Linked DNA regions of Homo sapiens: all the other regions are linked to region 1. The links come from fine-mapping of genetic effects on gene expression. A gene starts in region 1. Each other region holds a variant in brackets. All regions are shown on one strand. Distances are between the middles of the regions. Region 1 holds the start of PLEKHH2 (pleckstrin homology, MyTH4 and FERM domain containing H2). Region 2 overlaps PLEKHH2 (pleckstrin homology, MyTH4 and FERM domain containing H2). Region 3 overlaps THADA (THADA armadillo repeat containing). Region 4 overlaps PLEKHH2 (pleckstrin homology, MyTH4 and FERM domain containing H2). Region 5 overlaps PLEKHH2 (pleckstrin homology, MyTH4 and FERM domain containing H2). Region 6 overlaps THADA (THADA armadillo repeat containing).

Evidence for each region. PIP is the estimated chance that this variant, and not a neighbour inherited with it, causes the effect.
Region 2: its variant is the best candidate, but not a certain one, in a credible set for the expression of PLEKHH2 in caudate (GTEx, PIP 0.88).
Region 3: its variant is the best candidate, but not a certain one, in a credible set for the expression of PLEKHH2 in putamen (GTEx, PIP 0.72).
Region 4: its variant is the best candidate, but not a certain one, in a credible set for the expression of PLEKHH2 in Th1/17 cells (Schmiedel 2018, PIP 0.79).
Region 5: its variant is the best candidate, but not a certain one, in a credible set for the expression of PLEKHH2 in spinal cord (GTEx, PIP 0.62).
Region 6: its variant is the best candidate, but not a certain one, in a credible set for the expression of PLEKHH2 in spinal cord (GTEx, PIP 0.84).

What each region holds. Positions count from the first base shown.
Region 1 is chr2:43,635,478-43,639,567 of GRCh38, reverse strand. It overlaps PLEKHH2 (pleckstrin homology, MyTH4 and FERM domain containing H2), which reads right to left and starts at 2,308. Exons shown (of 30, transcript NM_172069.4): 1 at 2,189-2,308. RefSeq lists a silencer at 2,075-2,404.
Region 2 is chr2:43,727,124-43,731,213 of GRCh38, reverse strand. PLEKHH2 (pleckstrin homology, MyTH4 and FERM domain containing H2) reads right to left here. Exons shown (of 30, transcript NM_172069.4): 18 at 1,469-1,577. Among named protein-coding and RNA genes, the nearest start is that of DYNC2LI1, 45 kb to the left of the region's middle. The variant C/T (reference allele first, on the strand shown) is at 1,686.
Region 3 is chr2:43,278,572-43,282,661 of GRCh38, reverse strand. It overlaps THADA (THADA armadillo repeat containing), which reads left to right. Exons shown (of 38, transcript NM_022065.5): 36 at 2,766-2,897. Among named protein-coding and RNA genes, the nearest start is that of LINC01126, 53 kb to the right of the region's middle. The variant C/T (reference allele first, on the strand shown) is at 1,596.
Region 4 is chr2:43,747,484-43,751,573 of GRCh38, reverse strand. All of the region lies in intron 24 of PLEKHH2 (pleckstrin homology, MyTH4 and FERM domain containing H2), which reads right to left. Among named protein-coding and RNA genes, the nearest start is that of DYNC2LI1, 25 kb to the left of the region's middle. The variant A/G (reference allele first, on the strand shown) is at 2,450.
Region 5 is chr2:43,737,784-43,741,873 of GRCh38, reverse strand. PLEKHH2 (pleckstrin homology, MyTH4 and FERM domain containing H2) reads right to left here. Exons shown (of 30, transcript NM_172069.4): 20 at 3,354-3,533; 21 at 831-928. Among named protein-coding and RNA genes, the nearest start is that of DYNC2LI1, 34 kb to the left of the region's middle. The variant A/C (reference allele first, on the strand shown) is at 2,126.
Region 6 is chr2:43,382,254-43,386,343 of GRCh38, reverse strand. All of the region lies in intron 29 of THADA (THADA armadillo repeat containing), which reads left to right. Among named protein-coding and RNA genes, the nearest start is that of LINC01126, 160 kb to the right of the region's middle. The variant G/T (reference allele first, on the strand shown) is at 2,477.

The DNA of each region.
Region 1 (4,090 bases):
TGAAAACATTATGCTAAGTGAAAGATGCCAGACACAAAAGGCCACATATTGTATGAGTCCATTTACATGAAATGTCCATAAGAGGCAAATCCAAAGGACAGAAAGTAGGTTAGTGGTTGCCAAGGGCTGTGAGGAGAAGGTAGCAGATACTGACTACAATGGATAGGGGGTTTCTTTTTGGGGTGATGAAAATATTCTAGAATTAGATATTGGTGATGGCTATACAACCTTGTGAATATACCAAAACCCAGTGAACTGTATACTTTAAAAGGAAAAATCTTATAGTTTGTGACTTATATTAAGATCTCAATAAAAAAGATCACATATTTACAAATGACTAAAGAAAAAGTCGCAGTTTAAATGGATGTATACTAGGACTGCATTTACAAATTTAATCAACCATTATTTGTGGTTATCCCTGCCAAGAATTTCACAATTAGCTCAAAAAATTGAGAGGTAACTGTTAACCCCAAATATGAAAAGTATCATACATATATCTTACCTAGCGCACTTTGCTATGATGACATAATAAATTAATTCAAAGTCAAACATACCTATTTCTTTAGTTATGCTAATTATATATTTTATAGTGAAGTAGCAAAGCCTTAAGAATATTATTAAATTGGCATTTAACATCTACATTCCCTATTAATGGGTCATAATAAATCAGAACTGCAAATTGGTTGGATAATGGTCTGCACTGAGATCCAGACACCTGATTCCCTCATTTCATTCTGTAATTTCAGTTAGTTAACAAGTACAAAGCAACTGTTGTATTAGTGCACCATCTTGGGTAGTTAAAAATTCTAATTTTAAACAATATCCGCCATCCTTTTCATTACCACTAATGTTATAGAACTATATAACATTGGGAATATATATATAACTATATAACATAGCCGACTGCTAAATAAAGAAAATACCACATATAGATTCTGAATTTGAAAGGAATCTATCATGTCTAGATTCTGCATTTGAAAATAATCTATCTTCACTTCAGGGGACAGGAAAAAGTCTTGGAGTTCCAAATACCCCCAGTGATTTTTGGAAGTATTTACTGACATAAGATAAACTGTTTACAATTGTGGAGTGAATGCTCTTTTCTCTGAATCTCTGACTTCCTGTTTCTCTTCCAAATCCCAAAAAGGAAAGAAAAAGAAATGAAAGAATTATTCTACTTAGGCTTACCCTGATGAAGCGCAGCGTTAGTCTCTATGATATTCTTTAGTTTTTGCCTCTTAAGGGACAGCTTAACTGGGCTGGGTAATCGTGTGTGTGAGTGTGTGTGTGTGTGTGTGTGTGTGTGTGTGTGTGTGTGTTAAAAGATCTTTCTCGACGAGACTGAGGCATGCCTTGTTTAAGGAACCTTCTGACCACCACCTAGCCACCTAGCCCCACTTGGGCAACGCCTGCCCTTCGGTGACCCTGCCCAGAACAGCCGAGCTCCTCACTACATACTCCTCTGGGACACACCGCTGTGCGGGCCAGGCTTCCAAGACTGGCATTTTCACAAAGAAAGCAGTGACCCTCAGGTAGCCCACCACCAGAGCTTTTCCAATGTAAGTGGTTCGACTTCTATTTCCACAGCGTTACGCACAACAATATCGACGGGTAAAAAGTGTTGTCCTTTAAAAAGTGCCCCACTAACTTCGGGGACAGTGGTTTCCGGGTAGGTCACCTTAGGGTGCTTTGACGTGCCAGCAACTCGAGGTGTACAAAATGCTTCTTTAAAGTTTTGAGTTTAAAGTTTCGCCCCGGAGATCCTGGTGGATCTCCCGAAGCCTAAGGCGAGCGCGGCATCCCTGACCGCGCGGGTCCCTCGGCTCGGGGACCCTGGGCTGCCCCGCTGCGCCCCCGGGACCGCTCGCGCCGCGCCAGAAGCCCGGGCCCAGTGTTTCCAAACAGAACGTCACGGGAGCCCACGGGCGCGAGGGACCGCCGGCCACCGCCCCCTGCCCACCTCTCCCGGCGACATCCAGACTTGGGGGCCGACTCTGGGCTGTGGCGGGAGGTGCAGCGGCGGATCCCGAGTCAGCCCGCTCCGTCCCTCTCGTCCCCGCCTTCCCGCTCCTCCCGGCGCCCCAAACCTCGGCCCCGCGAGCCCCCCTGGACGGGGCGCCCTCAAGGGGGCGGGGATCCCAGGGTGGCAGGAACTCTGGAGTGGCCCCTCGTCCCCGGGCTTTCTCACCTGTCTATCTCAGCAGCGGGTCCCCGGCCGCAGCGCCCGATGTCCCGGCCGCGACTGGCCCCCGGGATCCCCGGACTCTCAGCCCGCGCCCGCCTCAAGCCGAGCTCGGAGAGGGCGGGGAAGGGCACCGCCTCCTCCAGGGACTGGCAGCCGGTGTAGCCAATGGGAGACCACAGCCGACCACCGGGCGTCACCGGGGGTGTGGCTATAACTTTGGCTCCTCCCAGTCCCTGCCCCAGGAGGGAGCTCTGTCCTGGAGTGGTACCCCTAACGTCCCAACTGCGAGACTCCAGAGCTTGCTGCAGCGGCCGGTCACCTTCATTCCACTCCGTCTGCCTGGACTGTTGCAGCACCCTCCCTTGGTCTCCCAGTCTGAAGTCTCTCCTCTTGCCAATCCACCCTTCATCTTCCTGCCAGGTTAATTTCCTTAAGAGCAGTTTTGATGAACAGTGTGCCAAAGACTTTCATTGGCTTCCGTTTGCTTAAATTATCAAGAACAGATTCCCTAGTCTAGTGTTCAAGGTCTCCATCCCGTCTTTTCAGGTTTATTTCTCACAGCTGCCCTTCACACACCTGAGACTACTGCTGTGCACCTCGCCACCCGAAGGAAGTGGCACTAGGAGCGTTTACATGCTATTTCCTGTCTCCACTTCAAAAAGCTCAGAATAATCTTCTCACCGGGCGCAGTGGCTCACGCCTGTAATCCCAGTACTTTGGGGGACCGAGGCAGGTGGATCACTTGAGGCCAGGAGTTCGAGACGAGCCTGGGCAACATGGTGAAACCCTGTCTCTACCAAAAAAAAAAAAAAAATATATATATATATATATATATATACACACAAAAAAAAAAAATTAGCTGGGCTTGGTGGCGCTCACTTGTAGTCCCAGCTACTCAGGAGGCTAAGGCTGGAGGATTGCTTAAACACAGGAGATGGAGGCTGCAGTGAGCCGCGATCATGCCACTGCACTGGATCCTGGGCGACTGGGCGAGATCCTGTCTCAAATCATCATCATTATCATCATCATCATCATCATCATCTTCTCCATGTAACTATGTCTGTCGCTCCACCTGGCAGAAATGTCGTCTCTGGGCCGGGCGCAGTGGCTCATGCCTGTAATTCCAGCACTTTGGGAGGCCGAGGAGGGCAGATCACGAGGTCAAGAGATCGAGACCATCCTGGCCAACATGGTGAAACCTGGTCTGTACTAAAAATACAAAAATTAGCTGGGCGTGGTGGTGCACGACTGTAGTCCCAGCTACTCGGGAGGCTGAGGCAGGAGAATCGCTTGAACCTGGGAAGCGGAGGTTGCAGTGAGCCAAGATAGCACCACTGCACTCTAGCCTGCCTACAGAGCAAGACTCCATCTGAGACAAAAAAAAAAAAAAAGGTCTTCTCTGGTTTCTGCTCCCTGAACATCTAGATTTTTGCCTCTCTTGGGGCTTAGCTCCCTCTGCCTTATGCACAGCTCCTCACATCTCTTTTAGACTGTGAGCACTTTGAAAACAAGGATTTGTGGTTTTTTTTTTTTTTTTGCATTCTCCTCAGCACAGAGCATATTGCATAAGTAAATTAGTGATAATTTAAATCCAGGTGAATTTTACATCCCAACTTAGGGTCTGGAGAGGTCAATCTCAGGGTAAAATAAAGAGAATTCTGAATGTTATGGATAATCGTTCCCCAGGTCACAAAGCTAGGTCAGACAGATTATTCTCTTTGGTTCACAGTTGGCCAATAGAGAGTATCAGAAAAACTTTTTCTACTACAATCTTTTTTTTTTTAACTTTATCTCATCTTATATAAAACACACACACACACACACACACACACACACACACACACACACACACACAGAGGATGGGCACAGTGGCTCATGCCTGTAATCCCAGCATTTTGGGAGACC
Region 2 (4,090 bases), 92 kb before region 1:
TAGTGATTTGTGAGATTTTGGTGCACCCATCACCCAAGCAGTATATACTGAAACTGATTTGCCTCACCCCCTTCCCACCCTTTCCCTCAGTCCCCAAAGTCTATTGTGTCATTCTTATGCCTTTGCATCCTCACAGTTTAGCTCCCATTTATGAGTGAGACATGTTCCTGTTTTGGATAATCTAGAAGAGTTGGGTCCTAATTTACTAGGCTGCAATAAGTCTACCAGGGCACTATCACGTTGCTTAAATGTGCTAAAGATTGGTGACCTAGGTAGGGGGCATGACTATATATGAGAAAGAGCTGGGGAAAGATCTAGAACTTCTCTAGAGAGGAGAAGCCAAAGTAGAAAGAGATATAAAGATAAAGAGGAACTTGAAGGCATTCCTAAAATCAACATTTATTAAATTCCTGTGTTGGACACAGCAAATAAAATGTGGTCTCTCTTAGCGTATAAAGCATAGGATAGAATCTAGTCTCTCAGTGGGGGAACCTTAGCCATAAAAATTCATTTCAGGCCAGGCACAGTGGCTCATGCCTGTAATGCCAGCACTTTGGGAGGCTGAGGTGGGTGGATTACTTGAGCTCAGGAGTTCGAGACCAACCTGTGCAACATGAAGAAACCCCATCTCTGCCAATGATACAAAAATTAGTCGGGCATGGTGGTGCATGCCTGTGGTCCCAGCTACTCAGGAGGCTGAGGCAGGAGGATTGCTTGAGCCCAGGAGGCAGAGGTTGCAGTGAGCGGAGATCATGCCACTGCACTCCAGCCTGGGTGACAGAGTGAGACTCCGTCTCAAAAACAAAACAAAAACTTAATTTCAATGCAAAACTACAAATGCTATAAATCTTTTGGCTTCCCTGGGCCACACTGGAAGAAGAATTGTCTTGGGCCACACATAAAATATATAAACACTAATGATAGCTGATGAGCTTAAAAACAAAAAACTCACAAAGAAATTTTGTAATGTTTTAAGAAAGTTTATGAATTTGTGTTGGGCCACATTCAAAGCCATCTGGGGCCACAGGCCACCTGTGGGTTGCAGGTTGGCCAAGCTTGCTATAAAAGAATTAAGTGACAAAACGCATTAGGACATAATTTTAACATTGATGAAGCACCTTTTATGAGCCAGATGCTGAGCTGCAGAGGGCTGGCTGGGGGATCTCCTAAGGCTAGGTGGGGTTTCATTATGTTGGTGAGGACTGCCAACGAAGGGGGCATTCCAAGCAGAGGAGCAGTGGAAGCAAAGGCAGAGGGAGGTGACCTGACACAGACTAATGAGGAATGATGGTGTCCCTGCAGCCAAAGAGCCACAGACAGAATTCTCTCCCATGATGAGCAAAGGCAATGAAAAGGTGGGTATATTTCAGGGAAACAGGAACCCATTAAGTGAAAACTCCATTAGGCTAAGCGGGTTGAGGTCCATTTCATTAACCATAAAGCTTTATTTATATGTTTATGAACTTACAAGGCTCCCCGTCTATATTTAGCAATTTGCAAACCAGTTGTTCAAATTCAGATCCAACGTTTACATTGTTGCTTCCAGCTGCAACAGTCAGATGATAAAGCCAAGTGTCCTTAAAACCAGAACATATTAATTAAATGTTAAGACACAGTTTTGATTAAAGAAAAAAAAACAACTTGCATAAACAGTAGAAAACTTTGAGATGGAAATGAACCACTTG[C/T]TTTAATTTTTAAATAATAATGAAAAGCCATTTATTCAAACAATTCTGAGGCATGCTCACTTGAACTGTGTTTATATTACCTTTTCCCATTATTTACACTTTTCTTATTCAGATGCATTTTAGAAAAGCATGACAAAATTAAGACGAGTAACACATGTTAAGAGACTAAATACAACCAGCTGATATTCTTTTACAAAATAAATAAATTCTATTAAATTAAAAATCTGGCTCCCAGAGTGATACATACAGAATATTTTGGAAATCCAGAAAATTTAAAGAAAACATAATACCCGTCTTATCCCATTCACCAAAGATTCCTGGTCTTTTTTTCTCTATGATAATATATATGTAGATTAAATTTTTACATAGTTGAATTATTCTGAAAGTAGAGGATAATTTCTGAATTTTAGTAATATAGTACAAGCACTCCCTTGTTGCTAGAAATTCTTTATAAACAAGTTTTAATGGCTGCAGGATATTCTACTACACATATGGACACACCATATTTATTTAATCAATTTCTTATTGCTGAACATTATGATGGTTACTAACTTCTCACTGATAAAAAATACTGTGACAGCTATCATCTGTTAACTGAAAAGGAAATGTTATATTTTCCATCTTTAAAATACTTCAAAAATAAAATTATTTTAAAAAGAGTATTGTAGGCCGGGCACGGTGGCTCATGCCTGTAATCCCAGCACTTTGAGAGGCCAAGCCGGGTGGATCATCTGAGGTCAGGGGTTTGAGACCAGCCTGGCCAACATGGTGAAACGCCGTCTCTACTAAAAATACAAAAATTAGCTGGGCATGGTGGTGCATGCCTGTAGTCCCAGCTGTTCGGGAGGCTGAGGCAGAAGAATCTCTTGAACCCAGGAGGCGGAGGTTGCAGTGAGCCGAGATCACGCCACTGCACTCCAGCCTGGGCAACAGAGTGAAACTCTGTTTTAAAAAAAAAAAAAAAAAGAGTATTGTGTTGAACAAACTATACATAAATTTTTGGCTACATTTACTAACATTTTCTTTTTCTTTCTTTTTTTTTTTTTTTTTTGAGACAGAGTCTTGCTCTGTCACCCAGGCTGGAGTGCAATGGCGCGATCTCGATTCACTGCAACCTCTGCCTCCAGGTTCAAGTGATTCTCCTGCCTCAGCCTCCCAAGTAGCTGGGATTACAGGAACCTGTCACCACGTCCAGCTACTTTTTGTATTTTTAGTAGAGATGGAGTTTCACCACATTGGCCAGGCTGGTCTCGAACTCCTGACCTCAGGTGATCCACCTGCCTCGGCCTCCCAAAGTGCTGGGATTACAGGCGTGAGACACAGTGCCTGGCCAACATTTTCTTAGTATATATTTTTTGAAATAGAATTATGAGTCATTACTAGGGCGAGAAAACTTTTAGGAACTCTTGAAACATATTTTCAAAGTACTTTCCAAAGCATTTACACTAATTTCTATTCTCACCAGTGGTATATAGGAGTGCTTCCCTCCTCATAGCTTCACTAGCATAATTTTTTAAATCTTTGATAATCTCAGAGACAATAAAAGCTTTATCATTTTTAAATGTGCGCATCTTTGATTACAGATGAGCGTAAGCATTCATTAGCCATTAAATTCCTCAGTAAGTTGTTCATCAGGCCCTCTTTCCATTTTTCTACTAGAAACATAGTCCTTTTCAAATCATATGAGAGGTAGCAGAGGCAAGTGTTCAGGAACACAGGCTCTGTGGTTAGAGATAGGGGTCTAATATCAACTCTGCCTCTTGCCAGATGTGTGACCACAGGAAAGTGCTTCAGTCTTTCCATCTATAAATGGGAATAAGGTCACCTCCCACAGAGGGTAATTGGAAGGATGAAGAAGAGATATACTTAGCACTTGGCCTGATACATGTGCTCAAAAACAATGATCAATAGTAACAATAATAATCTATAAAGAGTTGTTTATATGTTAAGGATACAGTAGCCATCCATGAAATATTTTGTTTTCTGTATTATCTTTTTAGTCATATTTATGATAATATTTGACATAAATAATTATTTCAATTTTGTATAGTCAAATCTATCAACCATTTGCACTCTGATTTCTTACACTGCCTTTTTGTTTTTGTTCTTTTTTTTTTTGAGACGGAGTCTCGCTCTGTCGCCAGGCTGGAGTGCAGTGGTGCGATCTCAGCTCACTGCAACCTCTACCTCCTGGGTTCAAGCGATTCCCCTGCCTCAGCCTCCCAAGTAGCTGGGATTACAGGCACACGCCACCTCGCCTGGCTAATTTTTGTATTTTAGTAGAGACAGAGTTTCACCATGTTGGCCAAGATGGTCTCGATCTTCCTGACCTTGTGATCCACCCGCCTCGGCCTCCCGAAGTGCTGGGATTACAGACGTGAGTCACCGCACCCAGCCCGCCCTTT
Region 3 (4,090 bases), 360 kb after region 1:
GTGCTTCAACCCCAACCCTGCCCTCTCCTGCCATGTTTAATCCCGTATTAACATGCTATGATTCTCTTCTCACCTATTAGTAGAATTATATTTTTGTGTACCTCTTCCATGCCCAGCCCTCAAGAATCAGACATGGTCACTGCCTCCAAGGAGCTTTCAGTATAGTTGTGGAGAAAGGATTTATAGAATAAAGGAAGGAATTGTTTTTTAGATAGTGAGATCCAAATTTTAAATGTTGTAGGAGTTCAGACCAATAAAGGGTCTCCTGTCCCTGTATCTCTCTGGGAGACAACGTTTTCTTCAATATGGTTTTAACTTTTTTCTTCTTAGTGACTTCAGGCATTTTTCTTACAGCCAGAGAGACATTGAGAAGGGACCTTCTGTGAGTGTGATTTAATCATGAGACCCGAAGGAATAAGAGCAAAGGGTGACAAACCTTAGTCAAGCTTCTCCAGTAAAGTTAATACCATTTTGCAGCACATTTTCTGGGTGACTTTAACTACTCAAACCCTAGCTTATAACAGGTAAAATGTGTGTGGAATAACCTGGAATTCTTTTGTGAAATTTGGTCCTGTGCCTACAAGAACATGAGAAATAGGTGCAGTGACTCATGCCTATAATCCTAGCACTTTGGGAGGACGAGGCAGGAAGATCACTTGACCCCAGGAGTTCGAGACCAGCTTGGGCAACACAGCAAGATCTTTTGTCTACAAATAATAAAAAAATTAGCCAGATGTGGTGGTGTACACCTGTAGTTCCAGCTACTCAGGAGGCTAAGGCAGGAGAATTCCTTGAACCTGGGAGGTCGAGCCTGCAGTGTGAGCCATTGTGCCACTGCACTCCAGCCTGAGCAACATAGTGAGACCCCATCTCAATGAAAAAGGTACTGAATAGGTAGAAGCAAAGGACATAAAAGTGCATGAGAGGCCAGGCGTGGTGGCTCATGCCTGTAATCCCAGCACTTTGGGAGGCTGAGGAGGGTGGGTCTACCTGAGGTCAGGAGTTTGAGCCTGACCAACATGGTGAAAACCTGTCCCTACTAAAAATACAAAATTAGCCGGGTGTGGTGGTGCATACCTATAATCCCAGCTACCCGGGAGGCTCAGGCAGGAGAATCACTTGAACCTGGGAGGTGGAGGTTGCGGTGAGCCAAGATTGCCCCATTGCACTCCAGCCTGGGCAACAAGAGTGAAACTTCATCTCAAAAAAAAAAAAAAAAAAGAAGTACATGAGAAAAGTCAAGGGCACAGCAAAGTCATTTAAGGAAAAAGAAAAATTGAAATGGACTAAAGAGGGAAGGATCTGAAGGATATAAATGATGACCATATTAAAGAGGAAAATATTAAGAAAGGAAGGTATTGAACCCTTACAGAACAACTAGAAAGAATGGAGACTGAAAGGCTGAGTAAAATTTAAATCAGATCTGTAATGAAAAGAAGAGAACGAAACCCCAAATGGAGCCACTGTTATTATTGGTATGACTAAAGCATCAGTGACTCTGAAACCAGGTTCTCCATGTACAGATGAGGTAGAGGATAGACAAAGGGGAGTTCTTAGGGAAGGGTAGTTTCTCCATTGAAAGGATGGGGATGCTG[C/T]GTGGTGGTCTTCCATGGCCCTCCAGTGATAACCCTCCACAAGCCCAGGCCCACCCCACCTGGACTAGAGGTACCCCTTTCTGGGAGGCCATGCTCACCTCTCACTTTCGTCATGAATTCTGTGTCAGTTACAGCAGTCCACTCTCATCTTTCCTGTTGGGAATCACAGCCACACAATTTTGTTCTTCACAACTCATTGCTTTGTGTTTTTGACTTTATATTCCTTTTGATTGCTCAGGACAAGATACTATCTTTTATTATTCATTGTCCGCAGCAGCACCTAGCACAGGCTGACTAGACAGATCAGTGTCCAGGAGTAATGGCAGTCAGATAGTGGACCCCCTACATACATGGGACACAAGCTGCTGCCTTTATCATGGGTCTCTTTTTTTTGTTGTTGTTGTTGTTTTGTTTTTTGTTTTTTTGGTCGGGAGCGAGGATGGAGTCTCACTCTGTCGCCAGGCTAGAGTGCAGTGGCACGATCTCAGTTCACTGCAACCTCTGCCTCTCAGGTTCAAGCGATTCTCCCATCTCAGCCTCCCAAGTAGCTGGGAATACAGGCGCCCGTCACCACGCCCAGCTAATTTTTGTATTTTTAGTAGAGACGGGGTTTCACCATATGGGTCAGGATGGTCTCAATCTCCTGACCTCGTGATCCACTCTCCTCGTCCTCCCAAAGTGCTGGGATTACAGGCATGAGCCACCACACCTAGCCTCTCTTTTTTTATTCTTGCCCCCAGAGCATAATCTTGATTGATGCTTCACTTTCAGAATTTATAGGCTCAGACACTTGAATCAACACTGGGCTAGTTTCTCCAAAGCAGTCTTATGCATAAAGTTTTCTTCTAGAGAATCAGGACTCAACTAGGAGAGCAGGGCAGAGGGTCTTTGTCACCTGGGCAGCATCTTCTGGAGGCCTTGCCTAGCGCTGGTTGCCTCCGGAAAGCCTACATCCTCACCCCCAAAAAAGGCATTTCCAAATCTGCTCCCTTAGGAGTCTGTCTTTGCCAATGTTTGTCTAACACTCTTTCTATCTTAACAATACCCAGAAAAAAAGAGATAGCTGTAACTCATTCAATGCTCCTCTCTTCCACCAGGGATTTGAAGCAGTATTTGCACCTGCCTGTTAATTGCATTCTAGGTAATTCAGATTCCTTTTGGTCTTCTTAGAGTTGCAGGATACACTTGCTCTCTGGAAGTGTGTCCTTACCCTTCTGCAGAGTGAGGAGCAAGCTGTTAGAGATGCAGCCACGGAAACCGTGACAACTGCCATGTCACAAGAAAATACCTGCCAGTCAACAGGTACCTCGTTCTTATCCTTTTGCATTGTCTTATCGCTGCAGGATAGAGGTTGGAACACTTTTCTATAATGAGCCAGATAGTATCTTAGGCATTGTTGGTCATTTGGTCTGTGTCTCAACTCTGCCATCTTAGTGGGAAAGCCACAAACAGTAGGTAAACAAATGGGCATGACTGTGTTCCAATAAAACTTTGCTTACAAAAATAGGCAGCTTCTCAGATTTGATCTACTAGCCGTAGTTTGCTGACCCCTGCTGTAGGACATCCTAAAGAAAAATTATTTTTAAAGGTAGAAATTTAATAAACTGTTAGGTCTTTTGCTGGTTACGTTGTCATCGGTTTTAAATAATGCCAAGTCTCTATTATCTGTGTGGTTCCATAACTCAGGAATCACAAAACCATCATTTTGTTCCTGAGTTTTTATATGTGACAGAAAGCGAGAAATGATTATGTGTACGTTAAGTTTCTCTACTTTGTGTCCTAGCTGCTCATTTGATAATAACATGAACCCAGGAGGGAGGAGGGGAGTGGAAAGAAGAGCACCCTAGCTGGGTAGTCCTGAGGTCGCAGCCGTCGTATAAGCGGTTACAGCCCCAGGCCCGGGGTCATGTGCATGTAATGGCAAATGCTACGAAAGCTAAAAGGAACTCAGGCTGTGGGTAGAAAATGGGCTGCTGGATGAAAGAGATGGGGGCAGATGGAGTAGAAATAAGGTCACACCTCTGGACAAGTGGCCATCTGGGAGGGTGCCTGCTTTAGCAGACTCGGATTCTCTGTGCTTGGGGCTGGGTGCCAGGAAAGGTCTCTGGATCAGCGGTCCCAATGAGAAGCAAGAACACTGTTTTGAGGCAAGGGATCAAAGCTGAGCAAAGAAGTTCACCTTAATAGACAGCAGAATGAGAGAAAAGGAGGCCAGATAAGCCTTTGTAATTGATGCAAGGCCCCTCATCAGTTACTGTGGCTGGGGCTGCTTGCCAAGGCAGGACACAGGATTGTGTTCCCTGGAAGCCTCCCCAGATGTGTGAACCTTCCAGGATCTGAATCCTCAGTCAAAATGGTCTGTGTACACTTCTCTGCCTATGTGGAAGAAGCTAGTTTTGGAATAATCTCTCAGTGATACCGCACCAGGGCAGGTTTCGCCTAGATCAGCTTTTCCTCTCAGCAGGATAGCATTTGGAACAGAGCTGCAAGTGATA
Region 4 (4,090 bases), 110 kb before region 1:
AAATTGCGTCACTGTGGACCAGTACCACTACGCAAATATACTGCTTCCAAATTCAGCAGGGCTCTCAGCACCACTGGGCGATCCTTTTGCTTGCCCTCAACTGGATCCATATTCATTCTTCAGAGCATTTATTTCCTACTGTTGCCCTTCCCATCCTCTTGTAAACTTACTGGGGGGAAAGCCTGCAATCTCTCTCTGTTCACCCTTCCTTCACTCCTCAGTCCACCATGGTCTACTGGTTATACTCTACTAAAACTGCAATTGTTCTCTTCCTGCCTCAGTGGCGTCCAACTTCCAGTCATCTGCTCAGAAGTCACCACTCTGCAAAGTCTTCCTCTATGTCCCTACAACCTCTTGTACGTATGCGTCATACTCATGGTAACGACAAATATCTACAAAGCATTTACTATGTGGCAGGCTCTGAACCAAGTGCTTTACAATTGCCAACATTTAATCCTTCAGACAACCCTAGAGGTGGGAGTCATTTTGACCTCCGTTTCACATACAGGGTACCTGAGGCACAGAGATGTTAAGTGACTTGCTCAGGGCCACATAGTAAGTGGTAGAGCCAGGATTCTAACCCAGGCAGCCTGTCTCCAGCCCATGTTCTTCACTCCTGTGCTACATTCTTCCTGTTACAGCACTGATTGCATTGCTAAGACTTCATGTCTGCCTCTCCCTATAAACTGGAAGATTCTAAAGGGCAAGGAAACTCTATTCACCTTGGAATTCCCAAGGCTTCAAACAAGTCTTGGCACTGGTAGATGGCATGAATGGACAAATAAATGGTACGTGAGAATTGCTAAGTACAGGAATTATTTGCCAAAAATCCTGAAGAATTCCCTTTCATAGTCTTAGGCAAGTGACTTAACTCTCTAAAGCTTCAGTTACCTCATCTGTGAGATGGAAATAATAATAGTACCTCAAAGGGTTGTAAGGATTATGTAAGAATGCATACAAAGAGTTAAGAATAAGGCCTGATGTTAGGTAAATGTTCAACAAATGAGGGTTAGTAGTAGTAGGAGTACCAGTAGTAGTATTCCCCAGAGGTCTCTGGAATCATGAGAGTCTCTCTCTCTCTTTTTTTTTTTTTGAGACAGAGTCTCGCTCTGTCACCCAGACTGGAGTGCAGTGGCATGCAGTGGCACGATTTGGCTCACTGCAACCTCTGCCTCCTGGGTTCATGCGATTCTCCTGCCCCAGCCTCCCATGTAGCCGGGACTACAGGCGCATGCCACCATGCCCAGCTAATTTTTGTATTTTTAGTAGAGACGGGGTTTCACCATGTTGGCCAGGCTGGTCTTGAACTCCTCACCTCAGGTGATCCGCCTGCCTAGGATCCCAAAGTGCTGGGATTACAGGCGTGAGCCACGGTGCCTGGTCCACATGAGAGTCTCTTGATCCTGGAATTTTTTTTGGTGTGAACATAGCTAGGAGAAATGGGATAAACTCCATTTCTTGGCTTAAACTTCTGGCTATGGCCAGTTTTCTTTTGTTAAAAACATGCCTTGGCTCTTACAACTTCAAAAACACAGTGAGAAATCAAATTAAATAAGAAGCTTAACTATGAATAGAATTTAAATGTTAGTTGCCAACGGTTGTCTATGAGAACAAGTTCAAAACCTGTTAATTAGATCTTTCATACCTGAATCTAAATAATTAAAATTCCATCACTTGTTAAGTATCCATTTAAAATTCCATGATAAAGAGAATTGATATTTTAGCTTTGTTTGTTACCCTGCTGCTTGGCAGATGAAGAATCAGGTCCTTGGCTGTGTGACAGGTCACAGCAAGGTTCCCTCCTAACTGTATCACTAGAAATTAGGGCTCATTGTCTAAGCTACTTATAAACACCGGCAAAGCACGGCCATGTTTAGAAACATTACTTTCTCATAGCTGTGGCTATCCAGCCATTTCAGAGTTCTGTTAAAAATCAAGCCTTTCAGTTGAGTTAATTTTTTTCCTGCTGTCAAAGACATTGTCATGAGGTTTTACTTTTAAACAAGGTAATCATCATCTGTTATTCACAATTCTCTCTTTTAAAAAAAAATTTTTGAAGAGATTTATTCTGAGCCAAATATGTGTGACCATGGCCTGTGACACAGCCCTCAGGAGGTCCTGAGAACATGTACCCAAGGTGGTCGGGGAGCTGCTTGGTTTTACGCATTTTACGGAGGCTGAGACTTCAATCAAATAACTTAAGAAATCTATTGGTTTGGTCTAGGAAGGCAGAACAACTTGAAGTGAAGACTCCACAACCTCTTATGGCAACCCAGACATTCCTTTCTATTGATTCCAGGTCTTTGGATAAACTCAACCAACTGTCAACCAAAAAATTTTTATTCACGACTCTCTTTGTCCTTCCTTGTGATGTTTGTTAGACTTGAAGCATTATTTTTACCTGTCTTTCATATCCAAATTTTATCCAAATTTCACTTCAGTTCCAATC[A/G]TAGCCATCATACTCAGAGTTGGTATGTATTAAGCATTCATAAGGTTTAGATTATTAGGAATAGTCTTGGCTGGGCGCAGTGGCTCATGCCTGTAATCCCAGCACTTTGGGAGGCCGAGGCGGGCAGATCACCTGAGGTCAGGAGTTTGATACCAGCCTGGCCAACATGGTGAAAACCAGTCTCTACTAAAAATACAAAAATTAGCTGGGCATGGTGGCAGGCGCCTGTAATCCCAGCTATCTGGGAGGCTGAAGCAGGAAAATCGCTTGAACCTGGGAGGCAAAGGTTGCAGTAAGCTGAGATCGTGCCATTGCACTCCAGCCTGGGCAGCAAGGGTGAAGTTCTGTCTCAAAAAAAAAAAAAGAATGCCTGAACCTCTTCTCCATAAATGTCTTTGGCAGGCCAGGTCCAGGAGCTGGCTCCTTCCACAAAGGCTGAGGCCAAGAGGCAGGGGCAGCAATGAGGACCGTTAGGTCAGTGCTTCTCAAAACCCAGCACGTGTAAGAATTATCTGGAGAGCTGTCAAAACAGGGACTCCTGGGCTCCACCCCCGGAAATTCTGACTCAGTGGGTCTGAAGTGGGGCCTAATGATTTGCATTTCTAACATGTTCCACGTGGTCCTGAGGCTGCTAGTGTTGGGCCCACGTTGGGAACTACTGCTCCAGATTAAACAGAACTACAATAATAATCTAGAAGGTCCAAATATTCTAGCCTGCTGTCCTTCCCAGTCACCAAAGGGCCACTGATACCTTGATAAAGTTTGCCCTCAAGGGAAACAGGTCCCTCCAGGGATGAAGCCTATTAGATTTCCAATATCTATGCAATATTGCTTATCTCTAGGAATGCATGATTTTAAAATCTTAGACACCAAAGATTAATAGTCACTTTCTTATTACTTGAACCTCTGGCAAATCATCACAGCTCATGAGCCCCTGAATAAAGAAGCTCCAGTGTTCACAACCACCATTTATTCAGATCAACAGAGTCTGTTCAAATACTGGGTGGCCCTTTAAGTGGCCAACTGGATGAGAGAAGAGCCCAAAATATGAATGTGCCATATTTATTTAACTGTTCTCCCTAGTAATAAACATGTGAGTGTCTGTCCCAAGTTTTTAACAAAAACATTGACAAAGAATATGACAAAAACATGACAAGGAAGATACTGTGACATACTGGAATACTCTGCCCACTTATCTGCATATTTCTGTGGGATAGACTATTAGAACAAGAAATTTTAAAGTGGATCAAAATTACATTCTTTATGTTGTACAGTGCCTTCAATTCTTACATTCCAATTTTAAGTCTGAACATCTTCCAAAAAGAGACCTCTGAGTACCACTCCAATAATTCCACCAGGCTCTGGGTCTGACATTTTATAGATTCCTTAATTTACAGGGTATAAGACTCAAATAAAACCAGCAAAATACCATTATTTTGTTATAATTAATGTGAGCTGGTCAGTTAACAGTGTTTATTAAGTACTACCTTTTGCTAATACATGAAAGAAATGAAAATATTTAAAAAGAAAGAAAGGAAATCTGGTTCCTGACTACATGCCAAAGTACATTACCATTTTATCTGTAGAGAAGGTGTGTGCTCCGGAGTCTCCGGCATTTTCTCAATTCTTGACACAAGCTAA
Region 5 (4,090 bases), 100 kb before region 1:
CTTGTTTGTTATACATAAATTTTACTGCTTATTCAAGCAGATTGATAACACCTGTCAAATATGTTTGTATTCAAGTGCCCTGTAGGCAGATCCTTGGTCTCGGGGCTCCTCAGTGACTGCAACTGAAATTACCTGACCTTGGTCACAGATGACCTTGATCACAGAGGCCCCACAATGTATTATGAACTGTAGAATATTTTCCTATTGCTTCCAAGTTGGGTTTGTTTATTTGTTTGTTTCTTTTACTGTGTTTGCTTTAGTCCAAGAGTTTAAGCAACCTGACACAAACCTCTTGGTGGACAAAATGACCCTGGATAAGCCTTGGCTGAGTGACCTGGGTCCCAATGTAAGAAAGCCATTCTGGAAGTTGAACTTTAAATGTGTTTTTCAAAGGAGTAACAATTCTGAAGTAATTCAAATACATACAATTAGAAAAGGAGGGAAGACCATGGGGGAAATTTTTCACATAAAAGAATTCAATGTGCAGAGAAATAGTAAAAGGGAAAACTAAGGAAACAAAATAGTTGCTTTTATTGAATGAACACCCACTAATGCTAAGTCATTCATACTTGAAATGCAAATGCACTTTTCACTTAAAAATATTCTCTGTCAGTTTTTCAAGTATTTATTGCAATCTTCCCTAAGAGATTTAACATAACAAAGGAAATATTTTCCTAGCTCCACATCAATGATAACCAAAGGCTTCCTGTACCAATATTTGTTTCATACATTCTTCTGAAAATGTACCTGGCAGATCGTTAAATACTTATGATTTATCGTAGACTTTCAGAGGCCACATAAACAGTTCAGCTGGCTAGTATTCTGCACACCTGGAATCTGCATTCCTCTTTAGGTGAAGCCTGAGGAGCCACAGGAAAGGATGATGGGGAAGGAAGAGCCCAACGCAGAGTGCCAAGAGCTGCCAGCCCTGGGCAGGGAGAAGCACCACAGGTTAGATACCACGTGCCAGTCAGAGATCCACATCTGAGTGAGTGCAATGGGCTGATGACAGTCTCTCTTAACCCAAAAACGTTTTGCTTCTTTCACATATGCATGATCTGTTTACAGCATTTATCATAGGTTAAAAACAAAAAACTCTACATTGGGTCAGATCTATGATCCATCTAGTTGTGTGTATGGTTATCTACAACTGAGGAACCAAGGCACAAGCAGACAAGGTGCTCCTTTTTGACGTTACACTCAAAGATTAGGAACATTGTTTCTTTTTTTTCACTTACGTATTTACTCATTCCTTGAAATACAAGTAATAGTTTTGAGAAACGCAGATTGCAGAACAGTAGAAAACACATGCCCTAAATCAAAACCAATCTACCTACACACACGTATGTATCTACATACCTAAATAAGGGACAAGTATAAAAATATTAACAGAGGTTATCTTTAGGTAGCAGCAATATATGTGATTTTTATTTTTCCTTCGCTCTGTTCTGTATTCTCCTTTCTATATTTTTTCAAGGAAGTATAAAACATGTTACAGCAGAATTCTCTTCTGAAGAACATGGTGGTTAATGCTCAACCACTAAACAAGGTACAAAAAGTCTTCAAACAACAAAAAAATTTTTTTAATTTCTTTATCCTATAAAACACTGCATTTGTTAAAAAATGTTAAGCATTAGACAAACTCATTAGAGTAAATAAATGTAAAAGTAGGATAGAGATCTCATTTGCCCTTGTTTGTTATATATAATTTTTCAGTCATTTTTAAAACGTTATATTAAAAAAGTTGGATAGAGATCTTATTTGCCCTTGTTTCCTATGTATAATTTTCAGCCATTTTTAAAACGTTATATTAAAAAAGAGGGAGAAATAGGCATTGTCCCTGCCCTTAAGGAACCTACAGTCTAGTAGGAGACAGTTATATATTTAAACAGTAAATTATAATACAACATGGTAATACCACGTATTAACTTTTTAAAGCATAACCAATGGAAGGAATGACTAACTTCTTGTGGAGTCAAGGAAGGCATCACAGGGAATATGTTGCTTAGGCTGGACTATAAAGTCTACGGAAGGGAAGGAAGAGGAGGGATCCAGGTAACAGGAATACCATCAGGTGCATGGTGGAGAATATTGCAAAGGTGGAGTGTGTTTGAAGGATGGGGCG[A/C]ATTTATTCATTCACTGTCTGCTGGAGGCAGGAAGTGGAGAAAGAGCGGGCCAGTGGAGCCAGATGACAAAGTGTTCTTGATGCAGATGAAGCTTAAGCTTCAGATTCCCTCTTGGGCACAGGTCCTGGGAAAGGCTTATTAACTGTGTTTACATGGTCATATGATTTCTAAAATGTGCAAAAGTAATCCATTTTCAAGTCTTTGTCTTAAAGAGCATTTCCCAAACTGTATAAGCTTCGGTCTCACAAAACCTAGATCCAACCCCGACAGTCCTATATGCTAAGGTAAGAAATTTCTGATTTATCCTGTGGCTAACAGGCAGTCAATACACAAAGATAAAAACAGGTGTTCATTGAAGAGTAAACACAGATGACTACCAAACACCTGAAAAATATATTCAACTGCACTAATAAAGAAACGCATCCTGAGTCAATAGTGAAATATTTTTTTTTGCCTGGTAAGAATTTAAAATATACTGAATGTTGTTGAAGATATAGGAAAATTCTAAAAATGAATTCAAAGGAATTCGCTGGACCTGTCCACAAGATTTAGGTTCCTGGTGGGCGCGGTGGCTCACACCTGTAATCCCAGTACTTTGGGAGGCCAGAGCGGGCGGATCACCTGAGATCAGGAGTTCGAGGCCAGCCTGACCAACATGGTGAAACCCCATCTCTGCTAAAAATGCAAAATTAGCCGGGAGTGTTGGCACATGCCTGTAATCTCAGCTACTTGGGAGGCTGAGGCAGGAGAATTGCTTGAACCCGGGAGGCGGAGGTTCCAGTGAGCCGACATTGTGCCATTGCACTCCAGCCTGGGCAACAAGAGCGAAACTCCATCTCATTTAGGTTCAAAGATGTCTACTGCAGAGGTATTTATTATAGGAAAAAATATAGAAATGTATCGTACTTAATGTTAACATGACCATTAATGTTTTGAAGAATGTCTAAGGATATAGGGGAAACGATTATTTTCTATAGTTTAAAAAAGTAGTATGCACACTGTAACTCCAGCAATATAAAAAACTGTGAGTGTACACACACCAACATACACACATTTATATATAAACATATAAATAAACCAAAAAGGTAGACATCAAAATATTAATACCTATTTTTCCTTCTGCACTTTTTGTATTCTCCAAATGTCTATGCTGAATGTGTATCATTCTTACAATCAGAAAAAAAAACACTTTAAATTGCATGTATATGTATCAATATTAATATCTACCTGCAATGGTCCTGGTTGATTCTGTGGCTGTCTTCGTCTTGTCTGTTTAATAAGCTGACAGCAAATTTCATTCTGCAGCTCAGGATGTGTCAGGCAGATTTGCAAAGCACTCTGGGCTAAAGATATGTGGTAATCAATTGCAGGAGAGTCAACTGCAGCATTTATAAAAAGCTGGCAGGTCTGAATTAAACAAAAAAAGATATATTCAAGGTGAGGAGTGATTAGATTTATTCTGCATGAATTATATCGAATATCTTTTCAGCAGTAGTTTTTGTTTAAAATGATGGAAAAGGATATATTATGATAACACTAATCAAAAGAAATCTGGAATCGCCACAATAATAGCAGACAAAGCAGATTTCAGAGCAAGGAATTCTGCCAGAGATAAAGAGGGTCATTTTATAATGATAAAGGGGTCAGTTCATCTAGAAGACATAACAATCCTAAACATCTACATACTTAATAACAGAGCTTCAGAATACATGTGAATCTCATCCAGCATATTTTTCATTTTAGTCACTGCATTTTTCATCTCTAAAAATTCAATTTGGGTCTTTTTAATATCTTCTCTTACTCTTCTTAAAATGCTCATGCTTTCCTTTACCTTCCTGAACATGTGAAGTGTGGTGGCCAATCTCCAAAGTGGTCCTCCGTGATCTCCACATCCTGACATTCAGATCCATAGTTAATTCCCTCCTGTATTCTACCAGGGTTGGTCTGTGTGACTGGTAGCATGT
Region 6 (4,090 bases), 250 kb after region 1:
GCATATGTTTGAAAAAAAAAACATAAGTTAAATCTTACTTGAATTTCTCTTGTTACTGTCAATAGCATGCATATTTTGTGCCTTTTCTACATCAAGTGAATGGGATTATTAATTGAGGTATGAATTTGTACTTGCAAATGTTCACCTTTTTGGCCAATTGTTGCCTTCCTGCTTCATCCTCCACTTTTTTTTTCCTTATTAATTAGTGGGTTGTGTGTTATAGTCTTGAACTGGTACCACTCTGAAGCAGTTGTTGAGGTATGTATGGGCATCAGATATCAGATGTTTTACTGATGGGCCCATGTTCATATGGAATAGGTATTTAGAATCTTGGTCATTTTCCTATTTGGGATGCCTTTTTAATCTTTATAAAGTAAAATTTCTGGTGAGGGGGACATTTTTCATTAGCTTCCTGAGAATCATATTTCTAAAAAGGTCTAAGATTATTTGTTTGGAGTTTTTTTTTTTTAATATCAAATGGATTTAAGAGGTTTTTTAAAAGTTGTGATTTCGAAGAGTTTACAAGTGCCAGCAAATTCTATCACCTTTGTTAATCTTCAAAGAGATCAGTATAATTAACATCTTACATGTGCTGTTTGACACTTTTTTCTTATTAACTTCTTAAGCCTTTAAAAAAATCTTTAGACAGATGAGTTTTACATGTAAATTTTAGTCCATTTATAGCAGATAGACTTTATGCTTGCCCCTTCTTCTTTTTTTTTTTTTTTTTTTTTTTTGAGACGGAGTCTCGCTCTGTTGCCCAGGCTGGAGTGCAGTGGCTTGATCTCCGCTCACGGCAAGCTCCGCCTTCCGGGTTCACGCCATTCTCCTGCCTCAGACTTCCGAGTAACTGGGACTGCAGGCATCCGCCACCACACCCGGCTAATTTTTTTGTATTTTTAGTAGAGACGGGGTTTCACCATGTTAGCCAGGATGGTCTCGATCTCCTGACCTCGTGATCCGCCTGCCTCGGCCTCCCAAAGTGCTGGGATTACAGGCATGAGCCACCGCACCCAGCTTGCCCTTTCTTCTTAGATTACAGGATGTATAGTCATTTTTATATCTAACTTGTTTCTGAAATGCAGTTTCAGTTTCCTGCTTTATAACTGATTTTTTCAAATATGTGAGACATTTACTTGTCCAATTACCAAATTGTTTTTTGTTTTTTTGTGGGTTTTTTTGTTTTTGTTTTTTGTGTTTTTTGAGACAGAGTCTCACTTTGTCGCCCGGGCTAGAGAGCAGTAGTGAGATGTTGGCTCACTGCAAACTCTGCCTCCCAGGTTCAAGCGATTCTCCTGCCTCAACCTCCCAAATAGCAGGGACTACAGGCGTGCACCACCACACCTGGCTAATTTTTGTATTTTTAGTAGAGATGGTGTTTCACCATGTTAGCCCGGCTTATCTAGAACTCCTGACCTCAGGTGATCTGCATGTCTTCGGCCTCCCAAAGTGCTGGAATTACAGGCGTGAGCCACTGCACCTGGCCTCCAAATTGTTTTTTAAGTTTGTTTATTTAGTTATTTATTTTAATTTAATTTTTTGTAGAGATAGAGTCACACTATGTTGCCTAGGCTGGTCTTGAACTCTTGGGCTGAAGCAATTCTCCCGCCTCAGCCTCCCAAAGTGCTGGGATTACAGGCATGTTCCACTGCATCCAGCCCCAAATTTTTCTTATACTGAAAAGAAGTATGCATTGATCAGATTGAGAGAAAATTGAAATAGTCATCAGGTCTGATTTTTAGATGTGCATATAGAGAACAGAGATACAAGGCAGTAATTTATTAAAATTCATGATTGAGCGTACAAATATGTGTGTTCAGTATGTACATTTAGGAAGAACATGCTAGAAATTTGAGTTGATGTTCTTCAAAGGAAACTCTTAGAGTAAATTAGAAATGTAATTACAATCCACACCCACCAACTCAAAAGGGTACTGAGTTGGGTAGGTTTCTGAAGAAAATGAATACCAGTGTACCCTAGCCTGTAATCCCCAAGCAGTGGTAAGCTCTTACTCACACCCCTCGCCCCTCCCCAAGAGCTCAACAGCCTCATTAGAGAAGGAGGACTATATTGTTCAGTAAATGTGTCTTGAAGATCATCACTTCTTCTATTCTGGAAAAATGTGTGATTTACTTTGTTACTCTCCCCTTGTCCTAGCTTTTCCTCCTTTGTTGTTTCTCTAAATTTTTACTTCTCCCTCCCGAATGAGAGCATGAGTAGAGGTGCATAATTTTCAGTTGTCTGTCCATTTCAGAAGTTAACTCTTACTATCACTGCACTGATCATAGTAAGTTTGGTCATTTTAAAATTCATATAGAGAAGCTGGGGTAGGGGGGTAGCCTGTGTGTGTATGTTAGACCAGGAGTGATGGTAGAAGCCTAAAAACATCTAAAATTTCAGTTAATAAAAGAAACAAAATACCACCAAAAAGTCTGCCCAAGAATTTATGTTCAAGTGAATATGTTTTGGTATTTTT[G/T]TATAAATTTAAGAATTGACAACGTTTTTCACTTTTTTTAATGATTGACCTTTCACAGATGCAATAGGTTGCTGTGGAGTGTTAGTAAGCACTCATTTCCTGAGGTCAGGCACAGTTTAGAGAACCTTGTCACTCAAAGTGTGGTTCTGGACCACAGAATCAGCATTGCTTAGAACTGGTTAGAAATGCAGAATCTTGGGCCACCTCAACCCTCTTGAATTAGAATCTGCATTTTCACAAGATCCCCAGTTAAACTCCTATGTTCATTATGTTTAAGTACTAATTCAGATGAACGTTTTTCAGGATGCTGTACTGGGGCTCCCAGCTAGTAGCTAGATGGTTGGACCAGCTGAACCTAACATTCGGTGATTGGTTATGCCTTTGTTTCCATGACCAACAGGGAGATGGGTGTGATGCTAATTATCTGGTATGTTAGCTTAAACTGCTGATGAGAACCCTTAATACTGTAACTCATATATAGCTTTGTGTTCTAGCTGTCACGTAATTCTTTATTTTACCAAGAAGATGGTGAACTCATGGACGGCAGGGATTGTGCCTTACTTATGCACTGTCTCCAAAACACCTATTACTAAGCATATAGTGAGCCTAGGTTGATTGGTTTGATTCGCTTTTCCAACAACCAATTTTGATACTGTCAATCATCTCTGTGTGGTTAGATGCATCTTTTATTAATATTATTTCTTCTTTTTCAAAATGTACATTTAGAGCCATACATGCTCATTTAATGCCATTTTAGTCCCATCCCATAAGTGTTCATACATGGTGCTTTCTTTGTTGTCCACTTTTAAATATCTGAACATTTTCATAATTTATTCTTTAACCCATTGATTATTTTTTGAAATTAAAACATTGATATTGAGATTTTATTGTTAAATTTTCTTAAAATGTTATTTTGTGGTCAGAGAACATAATTTATAATTATATTCCTTCTTTGAGAATTTTTTGAGGCCATTTTTGTGGTATAGTAATGTGGTAGTTTGTAAATTGTGTGCTTGGAAGACTGTGTTGTGTTACTTAAATCTTCTAAACTCTTAACTGATTTTTAAAACCTGCTTAATCTGTCACTTTATAAGCAGTGTGTCAAAAGCTCCTATATGTGAATTTGTCTTATTTCTTCTTTAATTCTATACATTTTAGTGCAGCAGTTAGAAGCAGTATCCATGAAGTGGCTAGAATCTTTATGATTGTTATGCTTTTCAGGAGAATTGTTCCTTTTATCGTTAAGTATTTTCCTCTTTTATAACTGTTAATGCCTTTTGGCTTAAATTCTAATTTTGTCTGGTATTGACATGGTGACACCAACTCTCTTTTGCTTGGTATTTCTTGAATATCTTTTTTATCTTTTATGTTCATTCTTTGTCTCTCCAAGTTTTAGTTGTCTCTCATAAAGAACATATATCTGATTTTGTTTCAGTATGCAATCTGATAGTCACTGTCTCATTTTAAATAAACTTCTTACTTAAGAATAGTTTTATATATACTGAAAAGTTACTAAGATAGTACAGAAAGTTTCTGTACACCCCTCACCTAGTTTCTCCTATTGTTACTATCTTACGTTAGTATGCAACATTTGTCATGGCTAAGGAAGAAATT